Homo sapiens: one gene and its partners. The protein of the gene in region 7 interacts with the protein of the main gene of each other region in a pairwise test. Each region holds a gene or a part of one and is shown on either strand. Other genes may lie near its edges. The genes, in order: TRPM4, OSTC, ADGRG1, TTYH1, SAP130, G6PC3 and CCR9.

Region 1 (4,021 bases), on a different chromosome or scaffold from region 7:
CCCTCCCATCTCAGGATCCAGAGTTGGGCCCCCAGTGTCATACCTGGGCCTGCAGGACCTCAAGGTCCCCTTTGGGAAAGAAACGCCTGATTCGATCTCGGGCTTCGCCTTGCCTGGCTCCCCCACTCCCTGGGGCCAGAGTGTCTTCCAGGGTCTCCGCCAGGCAGTCCGCAGCTCCCCCTGAGCCAGCCACGAGGAGACATGGGAGCTGAGCCTGGGTGGCGTTCTCTATTCGCTACAGGATAAAGGCATTCTTTATTCATCACGTCAGAAAAGGCAGGATATTCACCCTACCCGGAGTCAGACCCCCAGACCCTCCCTAAGACTCAGGACCCAGGAGTCCTGGCCCCCAACCCTCCTTCCCCCTTAGATCCGGGCATCCGGGCCCCTATACCGTCAACATCTTCTCATCACCATCAATCAGGAGGAGCAGGACAGGGATGTCAATTCCAGTCCCTGAGGCAAGAAGAGAAGGGGGCTTGATTACCTCCCATCAGCCTTTGCTGGAGATAGGAGAAAACCGCATTTCCCAGGAGTCGGCAAACATCAGCCTTGTCCTAATCTTCTGTTCAGAGGCTCATTGGAATTGTCATTTCTTTTTTTACTTAATTATGTATTTATTTTAGAAATGGGGGTCTTGCTATGTTGGCCAGGGTGGTCTCGAACTCCTGGCCTCAAGCAATCCTCCCAACTTGGACTCCCAAAGTGCTGGGATTATAGGCATGAGCCACCGCATCAGCCTAATTTCTGAAACAGGGTGTCACTCTATCGCCCAGGATAGAGTGCAGGGGCATGATCACACCTCACTACATCTTGATCCTCCTACTTTAGCCTTCTAAGTAGCTGGGACCACAGGCACACACCACCGTGCCCAGCTAACTTTTTAATTTTTGGTAGAGACAGGGGTCTTGCCATCTTGCCCAGGCTGGTCTCGAATTCCTGGACTCAAGGGATCCTCCCACCTTGGCCTCCCAAAGTGCTGGGATTACAGCTGTGAGCCAGCGCGCCTGGCCAGAATTGTCATGTCTTTGGACACTTCAGGAGGGAGCTAGATTTTGAAGACAGTAATGCTTAACTTCCCCAGGGAGGAGGGGGCTGAGGACCTAGACTCCTGAGTCCCTGAATGAGGCAGGTGTTTCTTGTATGAGTCAATCCTGTCATTGATTAACCATCCAGGAGCCAGAGGGAGTGAAAGTTCAAATAGAAAGTAAAGGAAATGGGAATAGAAAGGGCTATCTAACCACAATATAGATATTTACCAAAATCCAATTGCACCATAAAGATAGCACTATATCGACTCTACTTCCATTAAAATTAGAAACTAGGCCAGGTGCGGTGGCTCATGCCTGTAATCCCAGCACTTTGGGAGGCCGAGGCGGGTGGATCACCTGAGGTCAAGAGTTCAAGACCAGCCTGGCCAACATGGTGAAACCCCGTCTCTACCAAAAATACAAAAATTAGCTGGGAGTGGTGGCTCGTGCCTATAGTCCCAGCTACTCGGGAGGCTGAGGCAGGAAAAACGCTTGAACCTAGGAGGCAGAAGTTGCAGTGAGCTGAGATCACGCCACTGCACTCCAGCCTGTGCACAGAGCAGGACTCCCTCTCAAAAAAATAAATAAATAAATTAGAAACTAGACCACATTACCACTAACACTGTATTCATCCTGGAGTTTTGAGCTAACTCAATAATGCAAAAAAATGAAATCACTGAAGTGAAAATTGATTTTTTGGTTTTTGGTTTTTTGTAAAGCTGGAAGGGACAAAAGTACCTATTTGAAGAAAACATGGCTTGTATTCCCAGAAAATTGGAAAACCCCACCAAAAATAAAAATAAAGATCAATAAGAAAATTTGGTAAGAGGATTGATACAAGAAAAATACACAAAAATCAAAAACTTTCCTCAAACCTAGTAATGTATCTTGTTCATGTTTTGATAAAATTATAAGATATTGGCTGGCTGGGCGCAGTGGCTCACGACCGTAATCCCAGCACTTTGGGAGGCTGAGGCAGGTGGACCACTTTCGACCACGAGTTTGAGGCCACCTGGGCTGCATGGCAAAACCCTGTCTCTACAAAAAACTTTAAAAATTAGCCGGAGCCAGGTGCAGTGGCTCACGTCTGTAATCCTAGCACTTTGGGAGGCTGAGGTGGGCGAATCACTTGAGGTCAGAAGTTCGAAAACAGCCTAGCCAACAAGGTGAAACCTCATCTCTACTAAAAATACAAACATTAGGCCGGGCGCGGTGGCTCACACCTGTAATCCCAGCACTTCGGGAGGCCAAAGCAGGCAGATCACAAGGTCAGGAGATCAAGACCATCCTGGCTAACACGGTGAAACCCCGTCTACTAAAAATACAAAAATTAGCCGGGTGTGATGGCACGTGCCTGTAATCCCAGCTACTCAGGAGTCTGAGGCAGGAGGCTGAGGCAGGAGAATTGCTTGAACCCAGGAGGCAGAGGCTGCAGTGAGCCGAGATCGCGCCACTGCACTCCAGCCTGGGCAACAGGGCAAAACTCCGTCTCAAAAAAAGAAAAAAATGCATCAAGCTGTCCACCTTCGTGCATTTTTCTGTATGTATGAGAAATTTCAAAATAAAGTCTGTTTGTTTGTTTGAGATGGAGTATTGCTTTGTCGCCCAGGCTGGAGTGCAGTGGCTTGATCTCGGCTCACTGCAACCTCCACCTCCCGGGTTCAAGCAGTTCTCTCACCTTAGCCTCCCAAGTAGCTGGGATTACAGGCACACGACACCACACCTGGCTAATTTATTTTTTATTCTTTATTATTATTATTATTATTATTATTGGTAGAGACAAGGTCTTGCTCTGTTACCCAGGCTGGTCTTGAATTACTGGCCTCAAGCAATCCTCCTACCTCGGCCTCCCAAAGTGTTGGGATTACTGATGTGAGCTAACTCACTCTCAGACAGAAGTTTTTAAAACCATGAATAATGACGGGGAAAGACACTTAACCATAGGTAATTCCCCAAATCTCGACCAGACCAAACTACTGGGATCCTGAGCGCTGGGGTTGCAGGTTGTGGGTCGTGGGTTGTGGGTCATGGGTTCGACCACTCACCTCCCACGCCCGTCTTCTGCTGTGAGATGTAGGACTCCAGGCGCAAGCGGAAGCGGTTCTCGCCCCCCAGGCAGCCGTGTGTGCCGTCGTCCACCAGGAAGAAGGCCGAGTAGTTGTAGTCCAGGGGAAACTGGACCCCGTCCTCCGGGTCACCGCGCCACCGGTACCTCGCAGGGAACGAGCCCTAGGGGAAAAATGGCCAGACCAGGGCGTCTCCTCATCGGGGCCAGAAGGACAAACACGAGCCCCTCCTCCTCCCTCAGACCCAGGAGTCCAGGCCTCCAGCCCCCTTTTCCAAGTCCCTGGGTCACACCTTGGGGTTGATGAGGGTGTCTCTATTCCGGACCACACCCCAGGGGGCCACACCCATGGCCACCACCTTGGTGCCCCCAGTGCTGGCCATCTGATGGTCCCGTACAGCCACACCAACATGCCGGCCGATGCCCGTGTGCAGACCCCCAGTGACAATCCAGGCTCCTACACAGACGCCGAGGAACATGCAGAGGCAGGGGGAGAGAAACAAAGAATAAGACAGAGACACACACACACACTGGGCGGCGGGGGAGGCCACCCACAGTCGTGGGGGAGATGGCAGGCAGGCCGAGGCCCAGGAGACAGCCCCCACCCACCCTCGGTCACCTGTGCTCTGGGCAGCCCGCACCAGCCCACGACGCAGCAGGTCCTGCAGCCAGGTCTGGAGGACGGGGCCCCCCGATCCCCCCAGCACTGACACCACCAGGTTCGGGGCACGGAAGCCCCATGTGCGTGTGACCAGACTATAAACTGCAGCTGGATCCGTTCGGTCAGAGAGCCGGAGGAACTGTGGACACATGGGAGCGGGGCACACAGGGAGGGGGACAGAGACCCAGAGAGACGGGGACAGAGACCCAGAGAGACGGGGACAGAGACCCAGAGAGACGGGGACAGAGACCCAGAGAGAGAGGG
Region 2 (4,021 bases), on a different chromosome or scaffold from region 7:
ATCTTTGTAAAAAAGAATTCCACCCTGGAGGTTATCATGGTGCATCTTATGATACAGCCATCCTTTATCTCAGATGCTAGAAACATAGTTGATTTGGAAAAACCAGTGGCTATTGGTGTTTTTTTGACATCTTTTTTATTGTTGTGGTTAGTCCACTCACTATAATCAAACTGTTAGGTCATCATAGATAATTTGCATGAAAGAAGAAAGATACACCCTTTCCTTGCTGGGATAGTAACTACAACCCTGTTGTGTGTAATACAGGCCAACAGTCCTTGCTCATCATCTCCTCTGGGGCCTGCAAATATTCCAGGAAAGATAGTATCATTACTTCCATTTCTTATATAAAACTGTCCATTGTCTCTCCTCACTCCATACCCAAGGTACCAGGCATTAGGAGCTGCAGATGAGAAATGATATCAGAAAGGGAACCATAAATTCATCTTAAAAACTCAAATCCTAGATTTACAAGATACAGAAAATAGCAATTTTCTGTTTGGACCACTGTCCTGTTTTGATTAGATCTAAACATAATCTACAACCGAAACCCAGAAAGTATACCCTTTTTCCCTAGCCTAAAGTTTGGATTTAGTCAACGGTGTTACATACTAGCCTATAGAATGTGGACAGGAAGACAAATGTTCACATAAATGATTGCAAAAGTAAGATGAAGGTAATCCAGAGTATTAAACACTTGTCAAAGCTTTTCTGTCAGTAGCAGATAGCTCTATTATCCTGAAAGTCAAATGCCAAAGCTAAAAGATAACACCTATTTTCTTAATAGACTCATTCCTAGGAAGAGGACGTAAAACTATAAAGAAGGAAAACACTATGTAGAATGAAAACAGTAGGTAGAATGAGAACATATTTGATTCTATAAGCAAAACCAGGACACTTTCTCTGTTCTGACACATGCCTCCAAAGGTTTCTTTTGTTTTGGTTGTAAATTTTCTTTTCTTTTCTTTTCTTTTTTTTGAGATGGAGTCTTACTCTGTCGCCCAGGCTGGAGTGCAGTGGCACGATCTTGGCTCACTGCAAGCTCTGCCTCCTGGGTTCACGCCATTCTCCTGCCTCAGCCTCCCGAGTAGCTGGGACTACAGGCACCCGACACCATGCCTGGCTCATTTTTTGTATTTTTAGTAAGAGATGGGGTTTCACCATGTTAGCCAGGATGGTTTTGATCTCCTGACCTTGTGATCCGCCCGCTTCAGCCTCCCAAAGTGCTGGGATTACAGGCATGAGCCTTTCAGTAACCTCTTTATTCTATCTGGGAGTCTCCTCTTTTCTTGCTCTGCTAATGAAAACTTCAGTCTTTTCTATACAAGTACACCTTACCAGGCTATGGTGACTTACTTCCACTAGGAGCAGAAAAACAAGGAACAATAAGAGGCTGGAGTACCTTAGTCTTCACACAACTTAGCCAATGGCCAGAAATGCCTTCCCCAAATGAAAATAAGAGCTGCTGGCCGGGCACAGTGGCTCACACCTATAATCCCAGCACTTTGGGAGGCTGAGGCGGGTCGATCATGAAGTCAAGCGTTCCAGAACAGCCTGGCCAACATAGTGAAAACTTGTCTCTACTAAAAATACAAAAAAAATTAGCTGGGTGTGGTGGCGGGCGCCTGTAATCCCAGCTACTTGGGAGGCTGAGGCAGGAAAATCTCTTGAACCTGGGAGGCGGAGGTTGCAGTGAGCCGAGATTGCACCACTGCACTCCAGCCTGGGCAATAATGTGAGACTCCATCTCAAAAAAAAAAAAAAAAAAAAAAAAAGAGCTGCTGCCAGAGGAAACTGAGCAGCTATATGGCCACACAGATATTCAGCTGACAAAGAACTCCATGCTTTCCCTCCCATCCTGCCAGGACTAAAATGGGAACATGATGATTGTGGGATCATCATGTACTTTTGCCCATTCTACCCCAGGTGTGTTACAGACAATGGACAGGTTAAGTCACAGAACAAGTGAATTTGTAAAATTCAAACACACTAAGAAATCAGTATAGTTGACACTTGATGTTTAACACAGTCCCTAAAAAATAAAATACTAAAAATAAAATACTAAGAGCTAATATTTGTGGTATGCTTGCCCAAATTTCCTGTCGTTACTGTAGTTACTAATGCATCCATGAATTAAATTAGAATATATGGAAATGTGATTGTATTTGTTCACATTTCAAGTAAATAATCTTAAACAGAATTATGAAAGATGCCATAAACGATCTTATTTTTCCTCTAAAGATATTGAAAAGTTTTCTGAATCAAAATAATCTTTAAATACACATTAAACACGCACACATACACACACACACACACACACAAATATATAAATATCCTTTTCCTATCTTTTTGAAGGGCAATAACTCTCTTTTCCCTTACAAGGCATAATGGGTTTTCTTCCTACCAATATTCAAAGAGCAGCAACAGTGAGTGATCTGAAGCTATTCCCTACCATTAATACTACTGGAATTCTGTGTTACAGATTAGCCAAAAGGCATTTTAAAGTAACAGTGACAGCTGGGCGCCGTAGCTCATGCCTATAATCCCAGCACTTTGGAAGGCCGAGGCAGGAGGATCACCTGAGGTCAGGAGTTCAAGATCAGCCTGGTCAACATTGTGAAACCCCACCTCTACTAAAAATACAAAAAATAGCTGAGTGCTGTGGTGCATGCCTGTAATCCTGGCTACTCAGAAGGCTGAGGCAGGAGCATCACTTGAGCCCGGGAGGCAGAGGTTGCAGTGAGCCAAGATTGTGCCATTGCATTTCCAGCCTGGGCAACAAGAGCGAAACTCCGTCTCAAAAAAAAAAAAAAAAAAAAAAAAAAAAAAGAAACAATGACTATCTTCAGTCATTGATGCCAGGACAAAGTAACTAAATTTTCTCTCATGAACATTCATGGGGATAACAACTAAGAAGATCTATTAGTTTCAATTTTTATTAACTATAGCTGTAACCTGACCAAGTTACAAATATATTTGGTTTCTGGATTTTTCACCCATGTAAATGAAAGTTAAATTAAATGTCCTATGACTTTACATTTTCCAGGTAATCATTTTACCAATTTGCAACATAAGGTGCTGATTACACAAATAACTTACGGCAGTTTCATTCTCATGAATACTCTAGCCATGAAAAAACTCAATAGGACACAGACGAATCCAATGAACAGAAGAAGGAATCTATTGAGTTTTGGGATATTTGGTGCATTCGATCGGTCCAGGATTATGAAACCTAAACCTCCCATTGTAAATAGGAAGCTGGATGCAAGTCCTTCCATAATATATTGTCCATTTACTCTGGAAAAGAAAAGAATGACCATAGAAAGATAACAAATAGAAATGTTTCCCTTAAATTGAAATTCCTATTTCCGTTTTTGTGCCAAAACATTTTTGTGCTATATTTCTTATTCTTAGCCTTACAACTATTTTACTATACCTCTGGATATTCATCTGTCCATTCAACAGATATTTATTGAGTCTATTAGGTAGCAAGCACTGTTTTAGGTTCTGGGGGATATACAACAATGAATAAAACAGACAAAAATCTTTGTCTTCATGGAGTTCACATTCAAAAAATGTCGTAAAACCTCAACTAACACAACTGTTTATGTAAAATAAATACTCATATTTTATGTATACGAACGCTTTACCCAGAACTTTAGCTTAGCTTTTTTTTTTTTTTGAGATTGAGTCTTGCTGTCGCCCAGGCTGGAGTGCTGTGGCACGATCTCGGCTCACTGCAACCTCCACCTCCCAGATCGCTGGGACTACAGGCGCGTGCCACCACGCCTGGCTAATTTTTTGTATTTTTAGGGGAGACAGGGTTTCACCGGGTTAGCCAGGATAGTCCCAATCTCCTGACCTCGTGATCCGCCCATCTCGGCCTCCCAAAGTGCTGGGATTACAGGCGTGAGCCACTGCGCCCGGTCTAGGTTAGCTTTTTTTAAAAAGTTATGCTATTTAAATTTCTACTATCAATTCAAACTAATTTTGAATTGGTTAGATGTGTTTCTTGAAGTTTTAT
Region 3 (4,614 bases), on a different chromosome or scaffold from region 7:
CCCTGATCAAGCTCCAGTCTGGGAGGAGGAGGTGGTGCTGGGGTTTGGGGCTCTGTTGTCACACTCCCCTCTCCTCCCTACTTCCACCCGACTTCCCCACGGCCTCCTCCATGGCCTCCCTGGGAGCCCTGCCACATGGAAGCCCATCCTGCATCCCTGAAATGGCACAGCCCCCCAGACCCCACCTGCACACAGCTTCTGCACAGGATGGCGGAACCCGCATCCCAGTCCGGCTGGAGGACGGTCCGCAGTGGTCCCTCCATGGCTGTCCTGCCCACTCCTCTTACCTGCCTTTGTCATGCTGGGCCTTGCCAGGAGGCCAACCCCTACACCAACCCTGCTGCAGCTCTGCCACCTCTCTCCTGTCCTTCCCCTCGACTGGGCGCCACCTCCCCCTCGTCTCCCTCACACGTGAAGCTGCTCCCAAGCTTGAGCCTTAACCCAGCAGCCAGAGACTGGGACTGCCTGGCCAACCTCACACTGAACACCCATCCTGGCCCTCCCCGTCCTGCTGGGTTTGCAGCCTGGGCCCCCAGCCCCACACAGCACCTGCCTGGCGAGTCCTCCTGCCTCTCTTCCCCCCCACAGAGCAGATTGAGACCTGCTGGCCTGGCTCATCAAGTCCCATGAAATGACCCATGCCAGGGGTCCGGTATCACCCTCCCCGTGGTCCCCAGCTTGTATCGTTCCCCAAATGTTTTCCTAAGTAGTTTCCTCCACTAGGACTCCCCCTACAGTGCTCATACAGACATCAGTCCCTTCCCCTCCCACCTTCTCCCAAGCCCAGCCTAAGTGCCTTCCGCAGAGGCTCCCTGGTCCTCTTCCCCTTCTCTGGGCCCTCTGTTAGCAAGCTTATCTCACGCCTCCATCTCACCTCCTAACTGTTGTTTGTTTGTTTGTATCCCTGACAAAAGGAAGTGTCACACCAGGCTGACTGGCCCTTGCCCAGTGGCCCAGGCCGGGACACAGCCTGTCCGTCACAGATCACACCTGGAGCGGCGTTCTCCATCACCCGACACTCTCGGAGCCAAGCCCCAGGCCTACGGGAGCCAGGGCAGCTGTGATCACCCCTACACACCCATTTAGCAGCTGAGCTCCTGAGGCGAGAGGAGAGGAAGGGCAAGGGGGCCACAGTGATGCTGTGACCAAGGTGGGTGCATATCTCGGGTCCCTGCAGCAAAGAAGGGGTCAGGTCTGGCCCTAAGAGCTCATTCCACACCTGGACATTGGCAGGAAAGAGCCCAACAGGACCCCTGCCTGGGCTCTGGGGAGCCAACTTGGCAGCCCATGGTTATTAATGCCCAGATATGCTCCTTCTCACACAGTCTCTGACCCCAAGGAGCCAACAGGCTGCCCGGGGCTATCCTCTGGGAGGGGCAGGGGGCTTGGCTCTGGGTCTGGGCCACTCACGAGTTCTGAGATACCTTATTTGCCTCACCCACGGCCATGTTCCCGACAGAGCACAGAGTGCACAGTAAGCGCTCAATAAATGCTTCTATAAATAACTTTCTTGGTCCACTGAAGGAGCAACAAAGGCTATTCCTACACAGCCCGTGGACCCCAGGCTACAACTGCTCCACATTGGTGGGGGTGGGAGGCCCCTGCCTTGACCCATCCCCTCCTCCCTACGCAGTAAAATGAACATCAGACCTCTCCCAGTGGGGCACAGGGAGACCCCAACTCTACCACGCAGGGGAGGTGGGTTGGGGACGGGGGAGGACAGGAATCATTGGTTTCCTACACACTCCCAGCCCCCGCGGGGACCAGGGTGGGAAGTCCTATCAGTGCCAGGCAGATGGAGCCCTGAGGTCTGGTGGCAACGGGCAGGGTGTTCAGCCCGCAGCCTGCGCTTCCCCGTCTGCCTGTCACCGGTTCCAGGACTCTCACCCACGTGGCCCACGTTCAGAGACCCTGCGGGGCCACCTTCTCCCAAAGCTGGCCTTGGTGATGAAGAGCACGGCTGTCCCTTGCTCAGTGGGGACCCCGGACCCAGCCCCAGGGACAGCTGCAGGAAAGCTGTCCTCAGGAGTTCCCTCAAGTGCCACCCCCTCCCTGAGCCTGGCCCCTGGCTTTCTATACCTGGATGTGCTAGGTGACCTTGGGCAAGCCACCTGCCCTCCCAGAGCCTCGGTTCTCCCATCTGTGTAGTAGGAGCACTGATCTCACAGCCTAAAGAGCAGACCCCAGCTTGCTGGGCCCAGTGACTGTACCACTCTGAGCCTCAGTTTCTCCAGCAACAAAATGCCTGGGAGCCCCGGGAGGTGTCGCTCCCCTTGGGCCCCAGTCCCCTCCCAGGCATCTCCTTGTGGGTCCGCCCCCACTCTAGAGACCCACCCACAGCCATGCTGACCTGGACTAGATCCCACCAAGATACCAAGACCCCCCCATTTCCCCATTTCACCACCATCCCTACCCACTGTCCAACAGCCACCCGTGCACGGATGCACACATCCACACTTACACTCACATACACTCCCACACTCACACTCACACTCATACTCACACACACTCACTCACACTCTCACACTCAAACGCTCAGTCACACTCTCACACTCACACTCACATTCTCACTCACTCTCACACACTCACACTCACACACTCTCACACTCTCACGCTCACACTCACACTCACACTCACTCTCACACACTCACACTCACACACTCACACTCTCACACACTCACGCTCACACACTCACACTCTCACACTCACACTATTCCCCTTCCCACCTGCTGTCCAGCCCTTGTTTGGGTACCTGCTGCCAGGTGGAGGGTCCCACGCAGGGCCAGGCGGCTGGACCACCTTTCAGGATCCACCCCCAGAGGCTTAACCTGCCAGCCCTGGTCCCCGCTGCCTGCCGAGTGAGCTGGAGAGCGTGGGAGGCTCCCAGCCCATCTCCTACGGCAGGGCAGGGCAGACAGCTAGTGCGGAGAGGGAGGGACCGGGTTTGTTTGGTGGGGAGACACCCCTCTCCTGCCCCAGCTGGGCTCCTCCCTCCTCCCTGAGCTTGACTGGGGATGACGGACGATATATGTGAGTCATGGATTTCTCAGAGGGAGACCAGGAGGGGGCAGGGCTGAGAGCGCTGAGGCAGTGATCCTGGGGGATGCCCATGACTCAGCGCCGGGCAAGGGGGCACCTCAGCCTCACCCCTCATCCAGGCAGACAGTGTTCAGGGACAGGAAGGGGCCGGGGATCACTCTGCTTCCTCAGCCTCCATCTGTCGCCTCCCAGGGCCAGTCTCCCCAAAGTTCCCACAGAGAGGCCGGGGTTGCCACGGCAACAGGGCCCTTGGATGCTGTCCGCCCACCCCCCAGGTCAGGGCGACAACTGCCCTTTCCTGAAGGAGAGTCCAGCCTCCTTGGCAGCCGACGGGAGCCAGTGCTGACCGGCAGAGCGGAAGGCAGTCGGGAGGGAGCGGGTGACAGGCAGCCGGGCAGGAGGCCAGCCAGGCCACGCACGACTGACCGGCTGACCTGCGTCCCCCCGGGGGGTGACCCGTCTCCCCTCTCAGTGCTCCTCAAGCACCCACAGTTTCAACATCCCAAGTCATTTTGGATTCTGAGACCCCAGGGGCTTCTGGAAACGGCCTCCTTTAATCCATCTGCTGAGCCAAAGGGGAAACCGAGGCCTGGGTGAAGAGCCATTCCCAGTGGCCCCAAAAGCTCAGACAGAGAAGTGTGGAAATGGACCATGCCCCATCCCCCTTCTGGTCATTCCTCTGTCAGCAGCACCTCCCGCTGCTGGGGTTCAGTGCCCTTCTCGAGTCAGGAGGCTTTGGATAACTCACACTCCCTGCAGAGGCTCCTGTCTGCCCTCCTCCTCCGAGCAATGAGGATAGATGATTCCTCAGTCAGATGTGCTGGGAGGCTTTTACAATGCCAGAAGGGTGAGTGGTGACAATAACAGTAATTACACTCGCTGACCACCGTCTGCATTCCAGCTCCAGAGCGCCCCTGGCAGTGGAGAGAAGTCAAACCTGCTACTCAGACCAGTGCCTGGTACTTGCCAAGCCCTCAATAAATACTCCCTGTGAATGTGGTGATGAAGAAGAGGGAGCTTAAGGCAGATACATGTAGCTCAGAGATGAGAATTAACCTGCCCAAGATCACACAGCAGGGAGGTGCCCGAGTTGGGATGGCGGGAGCACAGGCCGTCTGGCTCCATAGCGGGTCTCCTAACCACTCAGCAATCCAGCACCCCAGGCCTCAGCCTGGGGCCTGGACACGTGGATGCTTGGGGAACTTGAGATTCCTTCTCTCCGGTAGAGATCTGCCTTCTAAACAAGGGGGCCAGGAAAAGCTTCCCCATGCCACGTGGAGGAAGAATGAATGGAACGTCTCGGGCAGCCTAGGAGCCAGGGCTGCTGCAGGTGAACTGCACTCCTCACCTACCTGCTTGAAATCAAGCTGCAGAAAGGAAGGGCCACAAAGCCACCCCGTGGGGTGCAGGGAGGCCATAAGGTGAGAGCTTCCAGAAAACGGCACTGTGCTTCCCACATTCACAGTCCCCAGTCCAGGCTGTGGGCCAATACCTGGGGCAGGGAGGCACAGTGGGGACTGGGCCCATGTCATACCCTCTGCTCTCTCCCGGGGCTGCAGTGGGAACTCCCTTATT
Region 4 (2,991 bases), on a different chromosome or scaffold from region 7:
TTCTCCTGAGCTGCACCCGCCCTTGTCATTGCAGGCCCCTATCTCCCTTTCACATGGGTCCTCCCCAGTCAGCACCCCACATCTAGAACCAGTCCAGCATCTCCCACCAGCCCTGGGCCCTCTCCTCCATCTTCATCTACCCAGGAACGTGAGAACTGCTACTTCCGTTTCCCTTCTCCCTCCCGGCAGCGGCACCTCCTGCAAGAGCATCCTCCCCTGCACCAAGCGCCCACAGGCCAGCCACCGCCAGCTCCGCCTTGGTCCAGGGGCGAGGGCTTCATAACCTGGGCCCTGCTGACATTTTGAGCCAGATCATTCTCTGTGGTGACGGCGCTGCCCTGTGTGTTGTGGGGTGCTGAGCAGCCCCACTCAGCTCCACCCACCAGATGCCAGGAGCACCCCCTCCTGCAGTGTGACAACCAACAGCAACTCGGCACCCGGCCAGGTGTCCCTGGGGGCAGAACTCCTCACCCAGCCAGGTGTCCCTGGGGGCAGAATCACTGGCCTAGAGCACGTGGAACAGCACGTCGAAAAACCAACCAGTGGCTCAAGATGACACCGCGCACACAATACACACTCAACATGCCAACAAATGCTGGCTCTGATGACTGTCGTCCCAAGAAATCAGCAGAAACGGCCTTCACCGAGTGCTAAGCACCTGCACAGCGTATGTATTCAGTGGGGGTTGACAGAGCCTGCTCTGCCCCAGGCGCTGCCCCCAGTACCAGGAAACTTCGGTAAACAGGACCGAGAAGGTCATCTCAGAGGCTGGTGTGCAACGAGGTAGGAGGGCGGGGGTCAGTGCAGGGCAGGGGTAGGTCGGGTAACCCCACTAGCAGGGATGGGTCCTCCAGGAAGGAGCCAGGCAGAGGGCTGTGCAGAGGAAGCTGGGAGGGGCTGAGGCCAGAGGCAGACAGATCCAGGACTGACCACCCAGGCCCTTGTAGGTCAGGGCGAGGAACAGGGATTTTAATCCATGTCTGAGGGGAATCACTGAGCGTTTTAAGCAGAGGAAGAACTTGATCGGATTGTGTTTTAAAAGGATCACCTGGCTGGCTGGCTGCTGCATGGAGGACAGACGGGGGTAGGCGAGGGGGGACAGGGAAGAGGCCCCTGTGGTCATGGTGGCTAGGATGCGGGGACCAGGGCACAGCAATGGTGGTAGGAACAGCGGTGGGAGTCCATATAGGTTTCAGAGGAAGGGCCAACAGAACTTGTTCTGAGAATGGTTGTGGGAGCTAAGAGCCTGAGTTTCTGGCAGGAGCACCTGGTTGAGGTGGGGTGTCTGTTACTAAGCCAGTGAGGGTTGGGGTACGGACCTGTCGGGGCAATGGAGGCTCTGTTTTGAGAGTATTGGTACATGCACACTGTCCTTCATCCTCACAACAGCCCTGCCAGGCAGACACTGACCCTCTCACGCTGCCGCCTCTTGCAATGGTGGAAAGAAGTTGCAGCCCAGAGAAGGCAAGCTACTTGCCCAGAGTCACACTGTCTGGAAGGGGCAGAAGCGATATTGGAGCTGATTCTCTTAGGCTCCAGTGCCCTCCCTCCTTCATCCTCATCCCTGATGTCCCTTATTGTTGATTTTTTTTTTTTTAATAGAGATGGGGTTTCACCATGTTGGCCAGGCTGGTCTTGAACTCCTGAGCTCAAGGAGTTCTGATCTGCCCCACTGGGCCTCCCAAAGTGCTGGGTTTATAGGCACGAGGCACCCATCCCTAGCCCCCTCCTATTTTTTTTTTTTTTTTTGAGACGGATTCTCGCTCTGTCACCCCGGCTGGAGTGCAGTGGCTCGATCTCAGCTCACTGCAACCTCCACTGCCCAGGTTCAAGCAATTCTCGTGCCTCAGCCTCCTGAGTAGCTAGGAATACAGGGGTGTGCCACCACGCCCGGCTAGTTTTTTTGTATTTTTAGTAGAGATGGGATTTCGCCATGCTGGCCAGGCTGGTCTCAAACTCCTGACCTCTGGTGATCCGCCCACCTTGGTTTCCCAAAGTGCTGGGATTACAGGCGTGAGCCACAGTGCCCGGCCCCGCCGCTTATTCTTGATTTTAATCTGTGAGGACCCTGGCACACTGACAGGGGAGATGGAGACCCAGGGTCTCATGGTGCAGTGGTAGGGAAGGGTAGAGTGATCTGTCCTCTTCCTTCCCTTCCCTCCCTCCACAAAGGAGTCTGGGGGCCTGTATTCCAGCCCAGTTTCTGCCTAGGCCACAGAAAAGCGCCTGAACCCCAGTTTATCCTTATGCAAAAGATCAGGGCAGCCCTGGGCTGGGTGGGGGCCCAGCCTTTCTCAGCTCAATAGTCAGCAATTCTGAGCATGGCTTCAGTGCTTACTCCCCACTCCCTTTTTGGAATGCCAGTTCCAGAAGGGTGGGAGGCAGTGGGAGCCACAGAAGGGGTCTGTCTGAGCCAGACCAGGGAAAGCTCAGATCCATGCGATGGCGTAGACAAATCCCTCTTGGGTAGGGTTGCCAGATCAAATTCAGGACTTCCAGTTACATTTGAGTATCGGATGCCCAATACATAATTTTCTAGTATAAGTATCTCCCCAGCATTGCACCGGGCGTACTTATAGCAGAGTGGTTTGCTGTTTGCTGAATCTGGCAGCCCTATTCTAGGGTCCATGGGGGGATGGATGGGGAGGGGGCCATGCTTCCTTCTGCAGGGGAGAGAACGAGGCCTCAGCTGCGGCAGGGGCATTGGGCATTGAGAGTAGATGGATGAAGACATTCCAGAAGCAGAAAGGACAAAACTGGGCAACTGCCTGGCTGTGGGGGGCAGAGGGCGGGGCCCTCCGGAAGGTCCCTCTCTCCTCAGTGTGCATGGGCTGGCTGGCCGTGTGACCTTGGGAAGGTCCCTCAACTCTGCTCCTCATCTTCTAACCTGTTAGGTGGGATAATCATAGTTCCTTCTTCATAGCATTGTTATGAGGCATCGATGAGTTACCACCTGTGAAATGCAACAGGGTCAGGTACTTGGTGAAGCTA
Region 5 (4,021 bases), on a different chromosome or scaffold from region 7:
ACAAGAGAAAAAAGTCTGTATGTGCTTAGTACAGATGCAAGCAGGGTTTTTTTCCCCCCCTGAATATTTAACATCCAAAGTTGGTTGAATTCACATCAGGGAACCCATGGATACAGAGGGCTGATTGTATACACATAGATAAAACTTGGTTTTTAGTCTTATACCCTTTGAGTGGTAGAAATTAGTGGTTCTCAGTGACAGGTGTTTGGGGAGGTGATTTTTCCTCCAGGGGAGTACTTGGCAATATCTAAAGACAGTTTGGTTGTCACAACTAAAGAGTACTATTGGCATCTGATAGGTAGAGGCCAGGGATACTGCTTAACATCCTGCAAGGTAATGGGAAGCCCCCCACAACAGAGAAGTATCCAGTCCAGTCAGCAGTGCTGAAGTTGAGGAATTCCTTCAAATACTCTTTTTCTCTATGTATTAAGTAAATATATGACATTGCAAAGTGAAATAAATGCTTTTCTATTCCTTTTTCTTCACCACTGGATTCTGGTGTTCCTTATGGTAAATGATACCACTGTCTACTCATTGCTCAAACCAGTAGCTGAGGCTTTTTTTTTTTTTTTTTTGCGCAATAGGGTCTCACTCTGTCACTCAAGCGGCAGTACAGTGGCATAATCACAGCTCACTGCAGCCTCGATCTTTTGGGCTCCCCAGCTAATTTTATTTTATTTTTTATTTTTTTAATTTTTTTGAGACAGAGTGTCACTCTGTGGCCCAGGCTGGAGTGCAGTGGTGCGATCTCAGCTCACTGCAGTCTCTGCCTCCTGGGTTTAAGTGATTCTTGTGCCTCAGCCTCTGAGTAGCTGGGATTACAGGCATGCGCTACCATGCCTGGGTAATTTTTTTTTTTTTTTTCGCATTTTTAGTAGAGACAGGGTTTCACCATGTTGGCCAGGCTGATCTCGGACTCCGGACTCCAGACTTCAAGTGATCCACCCTCCTTGGCCTCCCAAAGTGCTGGGATTACAGGCATGAGCCACCACACCCAGCCACATGTTCAGCTAATTTTAAATTTTTTTGTAAAGAGGGGATCTCACAATGTTGCCGAAGCTGGTCTCAAACTCCTGGACTCAAGTAATCCTCCGTTCTCAGCCTCCCAAAGTGTTAGGATCACAGGTGTGAGTCACTGTGCTGAGCTGGAAGCATCTTTAATTGCTCTGCGTTTTCTTATGAGCTATGGCCCTTGTCTAATGTTCCAGCCTCATTTCTTACTATTTAGCCTTCCTCCTGCCAACCTAATTTTTTTTTTTTCCAATGGAGATGGAGTCTTGCTATGTTGACCAGGCTTGTCTCAAACTCCTGGCCTCAAGGAATCCTCCCGCCTAGGCCTCCCAAAATTCTGGGATTACAGGTGTGAGCCACTTGGGTGGCCGCCAACTTAGTTTTTGTTATAAATTTATTTTAGTTCTCTTTAGACTTGAAGTGACTTTAAGCTACTTATGACTCCTGCTCGATGGTATCTACTCATATTTCTAAATAAATGATTAAAAAATTCCCAATTTCACGACTTTGGGACTTTGCACATTCTTTTCCTTTTGCCATAGTCTTCCTTGTTTCTTTCCATATACTTACTTATTTGGCTAATTCCTTCTTTTTTCAAGTTTCAACTTAGATGTTATTTTCTCTAGAATATTCTAGAGAATATTATTATTCTCTAGAATAACAGAAGACTCTATCTTCCATAACAACTCAGGTAGAGAATCTAGAAATAGAACCAGATATATATAGCCAATTGATTTTTGATAAAAGTTCCTAAGTAATTCAATAGGGAAATGATAGTCTTCTTTTTTTCTGAGACGGAGTCTCACTCTGTCTCCCAGGCTGGAGTGCAGTAGCATGATCTCGGCTCACTGCAAGCTCTGCCTCCCAGGTTCACACCATTCTGCCTCAGCCTCCTGAGTAGCTGGGACTACAGGCGCCCACCACCGTGCCCGGCTAATTTTTTGTATTTTTTAGTAGAGACGGTGTTTCACTGTGTTAGCCAGGATAGTCTCGATCTCCTGACCTCTTGATCTGCCCGCCTCAGCCTCCCAAAGTGCTGAGATTACAGGCATGAGCCACTGCGCCTGATGGTCTTTTCAGTAAAATAGTGCTGGAAGATCATAACATCATTATGGGGGAATAAAGGCTGTGTGCAGTAGGCTCATGCCTGTTATCCCAGCACCATGGGAGGCCAAGGCAGGTGGATCGCTTTGAGCTCAGGAGTTTGAGATAAGCCTGGGCAACATGGCAAATCCCCGTTTCTACAGCAAATACAAAAATTAGCCGAGGCCAGGCTAATTGTACAGTGGCTCATGCCTGTAATCCTAGCATTTTGGAAGGCTGAGGTGGGCAGATCACCTGAGGCCAGGAGTTCGAGACCAGCTTGGCCAACATGGTGAAACCTGTCTCTACTAAAAATACAAAAATTAGCTGGGCGTGGTGGTGGGTGCCGGTAATCCCGGCTAATCGGGAGGCTGAGGCAGGACAGTCACTTGAACTTTGGGAGGCAGAGCTTGCAGTGAGCCAAGATAGCGCCACTGCACTTCAGCCTGGGCAACAAAGCAAGATTCCGTCTCAAAAAAAAAAAAAAATTAGCCAGGTGTGATGGCTCATGCCTATAGTCCCAGCTACTTGAGAGGCTGAGGTGGGAGGATCGCTTGAGCCTGGGAAGCGGAGGTTGCAGTGACCTGAGATCTTACCAATGCACCCCAGCCTGGGTGACGGAGTGAGATCTTGTCTCCAGGAAAAAAAAAAACAAGAACTTATAACTCAGTAGTAAAAAGACAAACAACCTGATTTTTTTTAAGACGGGAAAATATTTGAGTACAGAAGAGCTAGATAAGTGCCAAAGAAGCACATGAGAAGATGCTCACCATTATTAATCCTCAGGGCAGTGCACATTAAAACCACTGTGAGAAACTACTGCACATCCAGTAGAAAGACTGAAATTACAAAGACTGACAATACCAAGTGTTGGAATGGTTGTAGCGCAAATAGAACTCATACTTTATTGTTGGGAATGCAAAATGGCTAGCCACTTCAAGAAACAATTTGGCAATATCTTATAAAATTAAATATACACTTACCACACCACTGAGCAATCTCATTCCATAGGTATTTATCAAAGGTAAATGAAAATATATGTTTATACAAGGACTTATATTCACATGTTCGTAGAAACTGTATTCATAATAGCCAAAACAGGGTTCTCACCAAATGTCTATCAGATGGTGACAGGATAAGCAAATTGTTGTGTGTCCATCCGTGCAGTGGAATGCTACTTGGCAATAAAAAGGACCAGACTACCAGTATACACAACATTATGGATAACCCTCAGTAACATTACACTAAGGAGAGAATCCAGATACATAGGACTACAGATGGTATGATTGTGTTATGTGAAATTCCAGAAAAGACTATGCCATAGTGACAGAAAGCAGATCAGTGGTTTCTGGAGAATAGAGGTTGTGGGGAGGGAATTGACTGCAAAGGGGTGTGAATGAACTCACTGGAGTAACAGGAAATGATCTGTATCATGATTGTGTTATACCGCTGTATACTTTTGCGAACACTTATCTAATGTTACACAAAGAATTAGTGAATTTTATATGTAAATTGTACCTCAGTAAAGCTAATTGATTAAAATGGACAAAAGATAAACATGCACTTCACTAAAGAAGATATATATGAATGGGCTGGGATCACATAAAAAGATGTTCAACATTACTAGTCATCATGGAAATGCTAATTAAAACTACAGTGAGACACACACTACAACCCACTAGAATGGCTGTATATCAAGCAATGAGTAAGGAAGAGGAGCAGCTTGTATACTGCTAATGGGAACAGGCAATGCTACAATCACTTTGGAAATGACTTCGGCAAAGTTAAACATATACTTACCATTTGACCCAACCATTCTGCTCCTTGGTGTTGCTGAGGATATTTGTAAAAAAATTATTGAACTTTTCTTGTAAACCAGTGGTGGTATTCTATGTAATCTATTCCCCAATAAAGAGGTTTTATAGAT
Region 6 (3,631 bases), on a different chromosome or scaffold from region 7:
TCTCTCCTTCTATCTCCAGGGCCCCACCAATCTGTTTACATATTTATTATCCTATGGGGGCCTGAGCAGGATTGAGGGAGCCAGGGGAGGGGCAGGAGTCCCAGCACCATCGGTTCATAGTGTGCTTGTGTGTTTGTTTTAGATCCTCCTGGGGGATGGGGATGGGGCCAGGCTCAGTGTACTAGGCCTCTCTGTGCTGAGCCCCAGGCTCCCGGCCCCTTACCCACTCTCTCCCTGTGGCTGGTCTGGTTCTCATGTAAACCCACTCCTTGCTTTGTCTCCCTGGATATGGATTTCAGTTAAGTATTTTGTAACCCGTTACACTGTGTGTCCTTGTGTAAATAAACTTGTTTCTGGCAGTGCCTTCTGGGGCCAATGTCTCTATTCTCTGGGCTCCCAAATGGAGTAGAGGTTCTCATCCTCCTTCCTAGCCAAACACACTACTCTTTTCTCCAGCCCCTGGACTAGAAGCCGATTTAGGAAACTGGAGGTTGGGGCGCAAGATCTGTCCTGTAAGTGAAAAGACAGGGTTATACCGAATATAGTCACAGCATCTCATGGGACCTCTCATGTGGCCTAGGCAGTGATGAGGCAGGGGACCCAGGGCTGAGAGGTCTCACCTGAGTTTACAGCCCTCTCCTTTCCTGCCTCTCTGCCCCTGGAAACAGGGCTGGAGATGGCACAGAGACTACTGGAGCAGCCTGGCAAAGGTTCCACTTGTGCACACACAGGCAAGGCCCATGGAGATGTGCGCATAGGCAAGAAAGGAATCTCAAAGTATTCAAGGGCTTTATTGGGGCCGCCCTGGCTGCCCCTCACAGTGTTGCAAGAACCCGCTGGTCTTGCTGTTGCCTTTGCTCTTTGGGGGCTTGAGAGGAAAGGCAGAGGGAGGACCAACTTATCTGGGAGAGAGAAGGCCCATCTTTGGGGCTAAGACCAGGTGGTGCGGAAGCAGATTTAGGGAGGGGAGGGCCTACTTAGGGGCTGGAAGGGGATGGGGCTGCCTCCTGGAGTGTGGTGGTCACAGAGTGTTGGCTTTGTGGGAGGGAAAGGAAAGGGAGGCACACAAGAAGTCAGGAAGAGTGGATGGGCGGTGCTTCCTGGGCACTGAACATGTGCACTGCCCAGGGCACGAGGGCCAGGACTAGGCATGGCCAGAGGGTGTACTTGAGGAAATTGAAAATGTAGAAGAGGCTGATCTGAGGGGGGTGGCCCAGCCAGTCCAGGGGGCCCAGCAGCCCCATGGCCAGCACAAGGCAGGCTATCTTCTGGCCATTTCCCAGCTGTGCCCGACGCACCTGGGCATAGCAGGGAGAGTGCAAGGCAATGCCCAGGCCCAGGGCAGCCCCTGAGTCACGGCTCAGGGAGGCAAAGGGCCGGCTATCCACGTGTATCCACTCAGGCCGCTCACACCACTTGAAGGCTAGGCTGATGGACCTGTGGGGAAGAAGAGTTCTTGCCAGGAGAGGCTGGAACATAGAAGGCCACTGGCTCTTGGCCATCTGCCCTTGGGGCCCACTCCCATGTTCTGTTTTGTGCCTGTGAGGGTCTATGTGAATAGGTAATGTGTCCTTTTTTAGCTATAATGAACCAGAGACACACCAGGCTAGGTGCAGGCGAGATAGGACAGGGCCCAGCCTGCCCAGGCTTCAAAGCGAGACTTACCAAGAAAGATCCAGGCCCAGTGTAAAGAGGGTCCAATAGATGAGGCTGGTGCCTAGCATGAGGGCCAGTGCAGTCAACCCATAGAAGCTTAGCTCCCGCTCCATAGGCACTCGGGGAGTCATCAGCCAGCCCAGGACAGCGCCTAGGAGAGTGGAGTGACAACAGCTTCAAGGAGTCTGGGGATATGACCCTCCCCACCCCGACCCCCAGCTGCAGTGCAGCTTGGCAAGAGAATAAACTGAGACATAACGGGGGGCCTCTGGGGTGGGCTCTACAGAAGCTGGGAGCGATGGGAAGATCCTAGACTGATCCTCCCACTGCCAAAGGCATCCTCTCAGTCCACCCCGTTGCCCCAGTTGCTCACCAGTTATTAGGCCAGCCAGCACCTGGTGAGGGAAATGTGCTAAGATGAAGATTCGCGACAAGCCAACCGCCAAAAGGAAGGTGCAATAAGCCAGGCTAGGCATCACCCTTACCCAGCGGCTAGAAAGAAGAGAGGCAAGGAGCTCAGAGCGTGTCCATACACAGCTTGGCCTCCTGCAGCACCCAGGTACTCCATGGTTGAACCACACAACCTAGGGTCCCCAAAACTCCAGCTCCCAGGCTGCCATGCTGCTGTGTCTATTAGGTACAGGGTGCCATCACCCCTGCTCCCAATGGTGGGCAATGCCAAGGGTATACCTGCGGGCCCGAGTGGCCACCTGCGAAGACAGGGCCGTCATTATGGGCCAGAGGGCTGCTCCTGTGATCATGCAGTGTCCAGAAGGGCTGCCTGCCAGCAAATCCAGAAGCTCGTGGTGAGAAGATGGAGGCAGAACCCCGGGGCCCCTGGTGATGCCTCAATAATACAGCTGCCTTTCCTGGCTGAGAAGAGCTTTTCCCCAGCACTGATTCATAACTCGCTCTGCTCTGAGGCCTTTTTACTGCCACTTGAGGTCACTGTGCTCAGGTTTCTGTCCTGATCTGTGTCTCTTGGCTGTCCTCTATACAAGGTGGGCAGCTGGTACATAGCATGAGTGCCCTCCTCCCATAACTCAGCTTGGTCTCCCTGGGGTTCTTTTGTTCTCTGCGCCAGTAATTGAGAGGCTGGTCCTTTGGTTGGGCCACCCAGGCTGAAAAGTACTCTGAAATGTTCACCCGAACCCTAACCACATTGGGAAAGGGAGAATGTTTGAGGCTTCCCACCTGGACCAGTCTCACAAGAAGAGGGGAACTGGTGAACCTGGGCTGGAGCCTGGCTGTAGTAACCAGACTCATGGACCCACCAAAAGGGCCTGTCTCCAAAAAGAAACCTGGAAGAGAACAGATGCAAGATGACTTTCCACATGCACACACAGCCAGGGGGGGTACAAGGCGGGCAGGACACAGAGTACTCTGGAGGGCCTGAGGGGTGAAGTCAAAAAGGGACTACGATTCTGTCCACTGCTCTCAAGGTATCCATGGATACCTTGCCATGGTTTTCTACCTTAGAACAGGAGAAAGAAAGCACACTATTTCTTTTCTTTTTTTTTTCCTAACCCTCAGCCTGTGGAAACACTATTTTTAAAAACTAGTCTGGGGCCAGGTACAGTGGCTCATGACTGTAATCCCAGTACTTTGGGAGGCCTTAGCTGGAGGATCACTTGAAGCCAGGAGTTCATGACCAGCCTGGGCAACATAGCAAGACCCAGATTCAACAAAAACAAAAAATTAGCTGGAAGTGGTGGTGCACACCTATAGTCTCAGCTACTTGGGAGGCTGGGCGGGCAGATCACTTGAGCCCAGGAGTTCGAGAATAGCCTGGGCAACATGACAAAACCCCATCTCTACAAAAAATACAAAAATTAGCCAGGCATCTTGGGGTGTGCCTGTAGTCCCTGCTACTCCAGAGGCTGAAGTGGGAAGGATCACTTGAGCCCAGGAGGTTGAGGCTGCAGTGAGCTGTGATTGTGCCATTGTACTCCAGCCTGGTGATGGAGTGAGATCC
Region 7 (4,632 bases):
AAAAAAAGAAGAAGAAGCCCAATGCTCTAACGTTCAGCACACCTGTTTACAAAACTCATCTAGAGGAGGAACTTGTAGCCTGCTCCAGCTACCGCAGAAAGAGCAAGTCTAGTAATTACATTCACCGAGGCTACTTTATGCAACTAAGTTGTACACTAGCTTTCTATAAAGGTTTCTCTTTATTTTTTTTTTTAAAGGTAATATATAAACACAAGCCAGGCAAGATGGCTCATGCCTGTAATTCCAACACTTTGGGAGGCTGAGGTGGGAGCATCACTTGAGGCCAGGAATTTGAGATCAGCCTGGGCAACAGAGCAAGACCCCATCTCTACAAAAAATTTAAAAATATGCCAGGCATGGTTGCCTACCCTGTAGTCCCAGCTACTCAGCTGGCTGACGCAGGACAATCGCTTGAACCCAGGAGTTCAAGGCTGAAGTGAGCTAACATTGCACTGCTGCACTGCAGCCTGAGTGACAGAGCAAGACCCTGTCTCTAAAATAAATAAACAAATAGTATATATCATGTAATATATTATGGTGTATAATAGAATGTAATATATTACAGTTTATAAAATATGCATCTGCTTCTGGCTCATAGAAAATTTGGAGAGAGCCAAAGAGTAAAAACAGGACATACCCCTCCCTAGAGCCCACATCTAGAACCTCCACAGACAGCCTTGCCATCTATTTCTCTTTCATTTTTGTCAGAATACTTCTCAAATATTTTATTCTCCCAGCTACTAAGTCTCAGTGCTTGCTTTCATTTTTGTCTTGCCAGTGAGAAAGCGGGAAAAATATAGGGGGGAAAATCCCACATATGACCAAACATACTGAGAGTGAGGACCATCTCAGCGGTCTGTCGGGAGTGGATGGGCAGTTGACTCAGCACTGTGGCAAATCTCTCCCTTGCTGCTCAGTGAGGCCTTGTTGCAGGTGCCATGGGCCATCCATCGAACCCACTTATTCAATGTGCCTTGAGTACCTGATACATTTATTTGGCTTAAACAATGTGTAAGACATGATCCATGTCCTCAAGAAGCTTGCATTCAAATACACTGAGTAAGTCATGGCTGCAAATAACAACAAAGGGAAAGTGCTATGAGTTGTGGTAGGAATTGGAAGAAGGAGGTCATGTCTTTAGCTCTGGGGAGAATCCAGGAGGGCTTCATTGAAGAGGTGACATTTTTGCGGGTCCTTGAAGGCCGAAGAGCATGGAGACATGCAACGAGGGGAGGGAACATTGCTCCAGGGTGGGAAAACATATGCACTAAGGCATGAAAGTCAGAAAGCATGGGGTATGTGCAGGGACCTGGGAGATAAAGGAAGGGAGAGAGCTGCTAATTCTCCAAAAGAGAAAAGTGCCTATTAGAAAAGTTAGCTTGGAACCTATTATTATCCAATCACTATTTTTGTATTCTCTAACATTCTTACGTAGCCAACATGAAAATCAGCATGGGGTTATTGTGCACACAGCATCTCCCCACACTTATAGCCTCTGATGCTTACAGCACTAACATCAAATCAGATACTAACATGAGTCAGGAATGCAGGTCCTTACTTTGAACTTTGTACAATTTGCTACACGGAGCTTGAATCATCTCTTACATTTTTTCATAGCTCTGCTTTTTGTTCCCTACACGAGGCAGGGTCTCTGAGCCATCTATCAGATCCATCCACTCACCATGCCTGGATCAGATGCCTGCCAACCGCCCAGCAGGGGCTGCACAGGGCCCAGGGGCTCCCAACACAAGCCTGTGAGTGAGGCCTACACAAAGAGGCTTCAGAACAGATAAGCAGATATTGGAAGAAAAGGACTCCGAAATTCCAGATGCTGAAATAGTAAATTAGCTTTTGCTCGTTCAGGAAAGGGAGTAAGGAGATGGGATCCCACAGACTGGCTGCTGCACAGCCCTTCCGGTTCAGCACACAGTGACCACTCTCTGGATGGACTTGCCAGCCGTCTATGGAGTAACAGCTAATTCAGAACTAAAGAGGGTAGGTGTGTTTGAAAAGGCAAACCAGCATCCACTGATGAGTCATTTAAAATAACTTTTTGCTTTACTCTGATCATAAAGGAGTATTTTTACAATGCACAAAAAATCCCCAAAATGCCAACATACATAATATAGAAAATAAAAACTCCTGAAGCACCCTTTCCTAGTTTAGCCATTGTTAAGTTTCTGAGATACTTCCTTTCTGACTTTTTCTCTGTAACACAACCTCACACACACACACACACACACACAGACACACACGCACTTAATAGAAAGGAAATCAGACTACACATATAATCTTCTATCTTGCTTTCTAATTGCCCATCTTTCATGGATCACCTTCCATGCCAATTCAACATAGAACCGTATCATAGAATTGGATGGCTGCTGTGTATTCCATTGTCTAGATACATCACAATTCATTTAACCATTCGCCTCCTGATGCATAGTTTCCTTGTTTCCAGTTTTTCACTGCTACAAAGAATCCTTTCCATGGGGCAGTGTCTCAGACTCAAGGACCTCATGGGTGTGTCCTTTACCCCTGGCCACCATCTTGTCCCCCAGCACCTGCTTCTCCTTCCTTTAAGGTATAAATCACAGACTGCCTTAAGCCTAAGCTTCATGTATGTGAAGGGGGAGGGAGTTTTATTACTCGCCCTACAAGAAACCTGGGTTGGGCATCACCAATTCCCATTTACCTTCCTGGAAGTTTCTAGAAAAGTGCCTGGTGCCCATGACCTCTGAACAAATGAGTGCAAGCCCAGGTTTTAGAAGCCATCATAGCAGCACACAACTGAGGGCCAAGATGACACTGGGTTGGGGGCAACAAGAAGAAGAGCAATACTCACTGTGGAGGGCGATGCAACTCTCCCTGGGACAGCAGGCACCACCAGCTCTCAGTGTCTGGGGAAAGAGCTGGGTTGCTCTCTGCCTGGGATGAGGGGCAGGCTTTGTGGGTTCTGAGCAGGCAGCTACCCGATAACAACACGAGAAAGGAAGCCAGGCCACCCCTGCCTGTGTTGTCACTGGTGGGGTAGCCCAAGAGGGTGGGGAGTCACCTGTGTAGCTTCCAGCAATCAGCGGAGTCAATCATTTGCAACCAGAAACAAAAAGCTGAAAACTGCTGGGATAAGGGGAAACTGTCTCATCTGAAGACGCACATACAGACTGATGATCTAAGAGCAAATTCTCTTCCTAGACAGCACAGCTGCTTACAGGGAATGGGGAAATTGGAGGATCCCATCGAGAGAAGTCAGCCTTGTCAGGCTTGCCAGAGGTGCACACTGATGAGATTTCTTTAGGTGGTGTCACCTGAGCAGGCCTGTATCAGATTACCACCCAGTGGCAGATGTAGCACTATCCATCGCAACATACCTTTTCTGGCCTTGACAGACGTACCAGAACCCGGAGGGCTGTGCTATCCAACACAGTAGCTACTAGGCAGATGTGCCTATTTAAATTCAAATTAATTAAAATGCTAACTAGGGCCAGTGCAGTGGCTCACCTCTGTAGTCCCAGCACTCTGAGAGACTGAGGCGGGCAGATCACTAGGCAGAGCCTAGGAGTTCAAGAACAGCCTGGACAACATGGTGAAACCTCATCTCTACAAAACACACAAAAACAATTAGGCAGGCATGGTGGCCCATGCCTGTAGTCCCAGATACTCAGGGAAGCTGAGGTGGAAGGATCAGGAGGCAGAGGTTGTAGTGAGCCAAGATTGCACCACTGCACTCCACCCTGGGCAACAGACTGAGACCCTGTATCAAAAAAGAAAAATGTTTTAAGTGTTAACTAGTTTCTCAGTCATGCCAGGTACATTTCAAGTGCTCAATAGCCACATGCAGCTAGTGGCTATCCCAATGGACAATGCAGATACAGAACCTGTCCATCGTCGCCAACAGTGCTATTGAAAGGCACTGCTTTAGAAAGTCTGCCTGTGAGATGTAGCTAGGAACACATGGAGTGCTGGAAAGCCACAGACACCTTCAAATTGGGGCAAATCTAGTAAGGTTTTGCACATCAGATACATTAACAAAGATAATACAATAAATTGTATTAATTACAGGTGTTTTGGTAAAACTTTGAAAAAAGCTAAATATACAAAATATTGCATTTTTAATGAAGATCACAGACGAAGTCTTCCCATCCACTGCTACAGTGGGGACTTCAATCCTGATGTGATTAATGATTTCCTGTCATTGTTATGACAAAGATCCCTTTTATATATTTGTTCTGGGGGAAAATCATGACTACACTCTTGTGGATGTTAATTTCCACCTCTTGGTGTATTGATTGTCCCGAGGACTCAATGCCGCTCTGTCATGGCGTGGTACTCCCAGGCGCATGTCCCCTTCATCACCCTCAGTTCCCGTAGAGCAAAGGGATGCAGAAGGTGCACTTGGGTTTATTGTCTAAATGGAAAAAGGCCAACAAATAGGTCATCTGAAAGGTAGAGGGCATGCACAGTAAGAACGAAAGAGGTGTCTGATTCATCAGCCTTAAGGAACGGCGGTGCGAGGGAGCCGTGAAATTCCCTTCCCTCGGCGGGCGCTCATTGCAAATAAATGGTGTCTGAAACTATACATAGCTGAGAACCAGCCAGATGCTCTGGCATCTCACTCCTCCCTCTCACTTGGCA

Evidence for each region.
Region 1: the proteins of CCR9 (region 7) and TRPM4 interact in a two-hybrid assay, tested with the Homo sapiens proteins (one large-scale study listed by BioGRID and IntAct).
Region 2: the proteins of CCR9 (region 7) and OSTC interact in a two-hybrid assay, tested with the Homo sapiens proteins (one large-scale study listed by BioGRID and IntAct).
Region 3: the proteins of CCR9 (region 7) and ADGRG1 interact in a two-hybrid assay, tested with the Homo sapiens proteins (one large-scale study listed by BioGRID and IntAct).
Region 4: the proteins of CCR9 (region 7) and TTYH1 interact in a two-hybrid assay, tested with the Homo sapiens proteins (one large-scale study listed by BioGRID and IntAct).
Region 5: the proteins of CCR9 (region 7) and SAP130 interact in a two-hybrid assay, tested with the Homo sapiens proteins (one large-scale study listed by BioGRID and IntAct).
Region 6: the proteins of CCR9 (region 7) and G6PC3 interact in a two-hybrid assay, tested with the Homo sapiens proteins (one large-scale study listed by BioGRID and IntAct).

Annotation. Positions count from the first base shown.
Region 1 is NC_000019.10:49,167,792-49,171,812, reverse strand, and holds part of TRPM4 (transient receptor potential cation channel subfamily M member 4), read right to left. Parts: coding exon of another isoform or gene 3,897-4,021; coding exon 3,716-3,896; intron 3,554-3,715; coding exon 3,390-3,553; intron 3,261-3,389; coding exon 3,077-3,260; intron 457-3,076; coding exon 395-456; intron 236-394; coding exon 44-235; intron 1-43. UniProt on the Homo sapiens protein: Calcium-activated selective cation channel that mediates membrane depolarization. While it is activated by increase in intracellular Ca(2+), it is impermeable to it.
Region 2 is NC_000004.12:108,656,723-108,660,743, reverse strand, and holds part of OSTC (oligosaccharyltransferase complex subunit OSTC), read right to left. Parts: intron 3,295-4,021; coding exon 3,097-3,294; intron 1-3,096. UniProt on the Homo sapiens protein: Subunit of STT3A-containing oligosaccharyl transferase (OST-A) complex that catalyzes the initial transfer of a defined glycan (Glc(3)Man(9)GlcNAc(2) in eukaryotes) from the lipid carrier dolichol-pyrophosphate to an asparagine residue within an Asn-X-Ser/Thr consensus motif in nascent polypeptide chains, the first step in protein N-glycosylation.
Region 3 is NC_000016.10:57,626,941-57,631,554, reverse strand, and holds the start of ADGRG1 (adhesion G-protein coupled receptor G1 isoform b precursor), read right to left. Parts: upstream 2,926-4,614; 5' UTR 2,753-2,925; exon of another isoform or gene 2,727-2,752; intron 1-2,726. UniProt on the Homo sapiens protein: Adhesion G-protein coupled receptor (aGPCR) for steroid hormone 17alpha-hydroxypregnenolone (17-OH), which is involved in cell adhesion and cell-cell interactions.
Region 4 is NC_000019.10:54,432,318-54,435,308, reverse strand, and holds part of TTYH1 (protein tweety homolog 1), read right to left. Parts: intron 1-2,991. UniProt on the Homo sapiens protein: Calcium-independent, swelling-dependent volume-regulated anion channel (VRAC-swell) which plays a pivotal role in the process of regulatory volume decrease (RVD) in the brain through the efflux of anions like chloride and organic osmolytes like glutamate.
Region 5 is NC_000002.12:128,021,558-128,025,578, reverse strand, and holds part of SAP130 (histone deacetylase complex subunit SAP130), read left to right. Parts: intron 1-4,021. UniProt on the Homo sapiens protein: Acts as a transcriptional repressor. May function in the assembly and/or enzymatic activity of the mSin3A corepressor complex or in mediating interactions between the complex and other regulatory complexes.
Region 6 is NC_000017.11:44,073,486-44,077,116, reverse strand, and holds the end of G6PC3 (glucose-6-phosphatase 3), read right to left. Parts: intron 2,958-3,631; coding exon 2,851-2,957; intron 2,438-2,850; coding exon 2,347-2,437; intron 2,149-2,346; coding exon 2,030-2,148; intron 1,808-2,029; coding exon 1,666-1,807; intron 1,438-1,665; coding exon 1,074-1,437; 3' UTR 773-1,073; downstream 1-772. UniProt on the Homo sapiens protein: Hydrolyzes glucose-6-phosphate to glucose in the endoplasmic reticulum. May form with the glucose-6-phosphate transporter (SLC37A4/G6PT) a ubiquitously expressed complex responsible for glucose production through glycogenolysis and gluconeogenesis.
Region 7 is NC_000003.12:45,884,866-45,889,497, reverse strand, and holds the start of CCR9 (C-C chemokine receptor type 9), read right to left. Parts: upstream 2,956-4,632; 5' UTR 2,843-2,955; intron 1-2,842.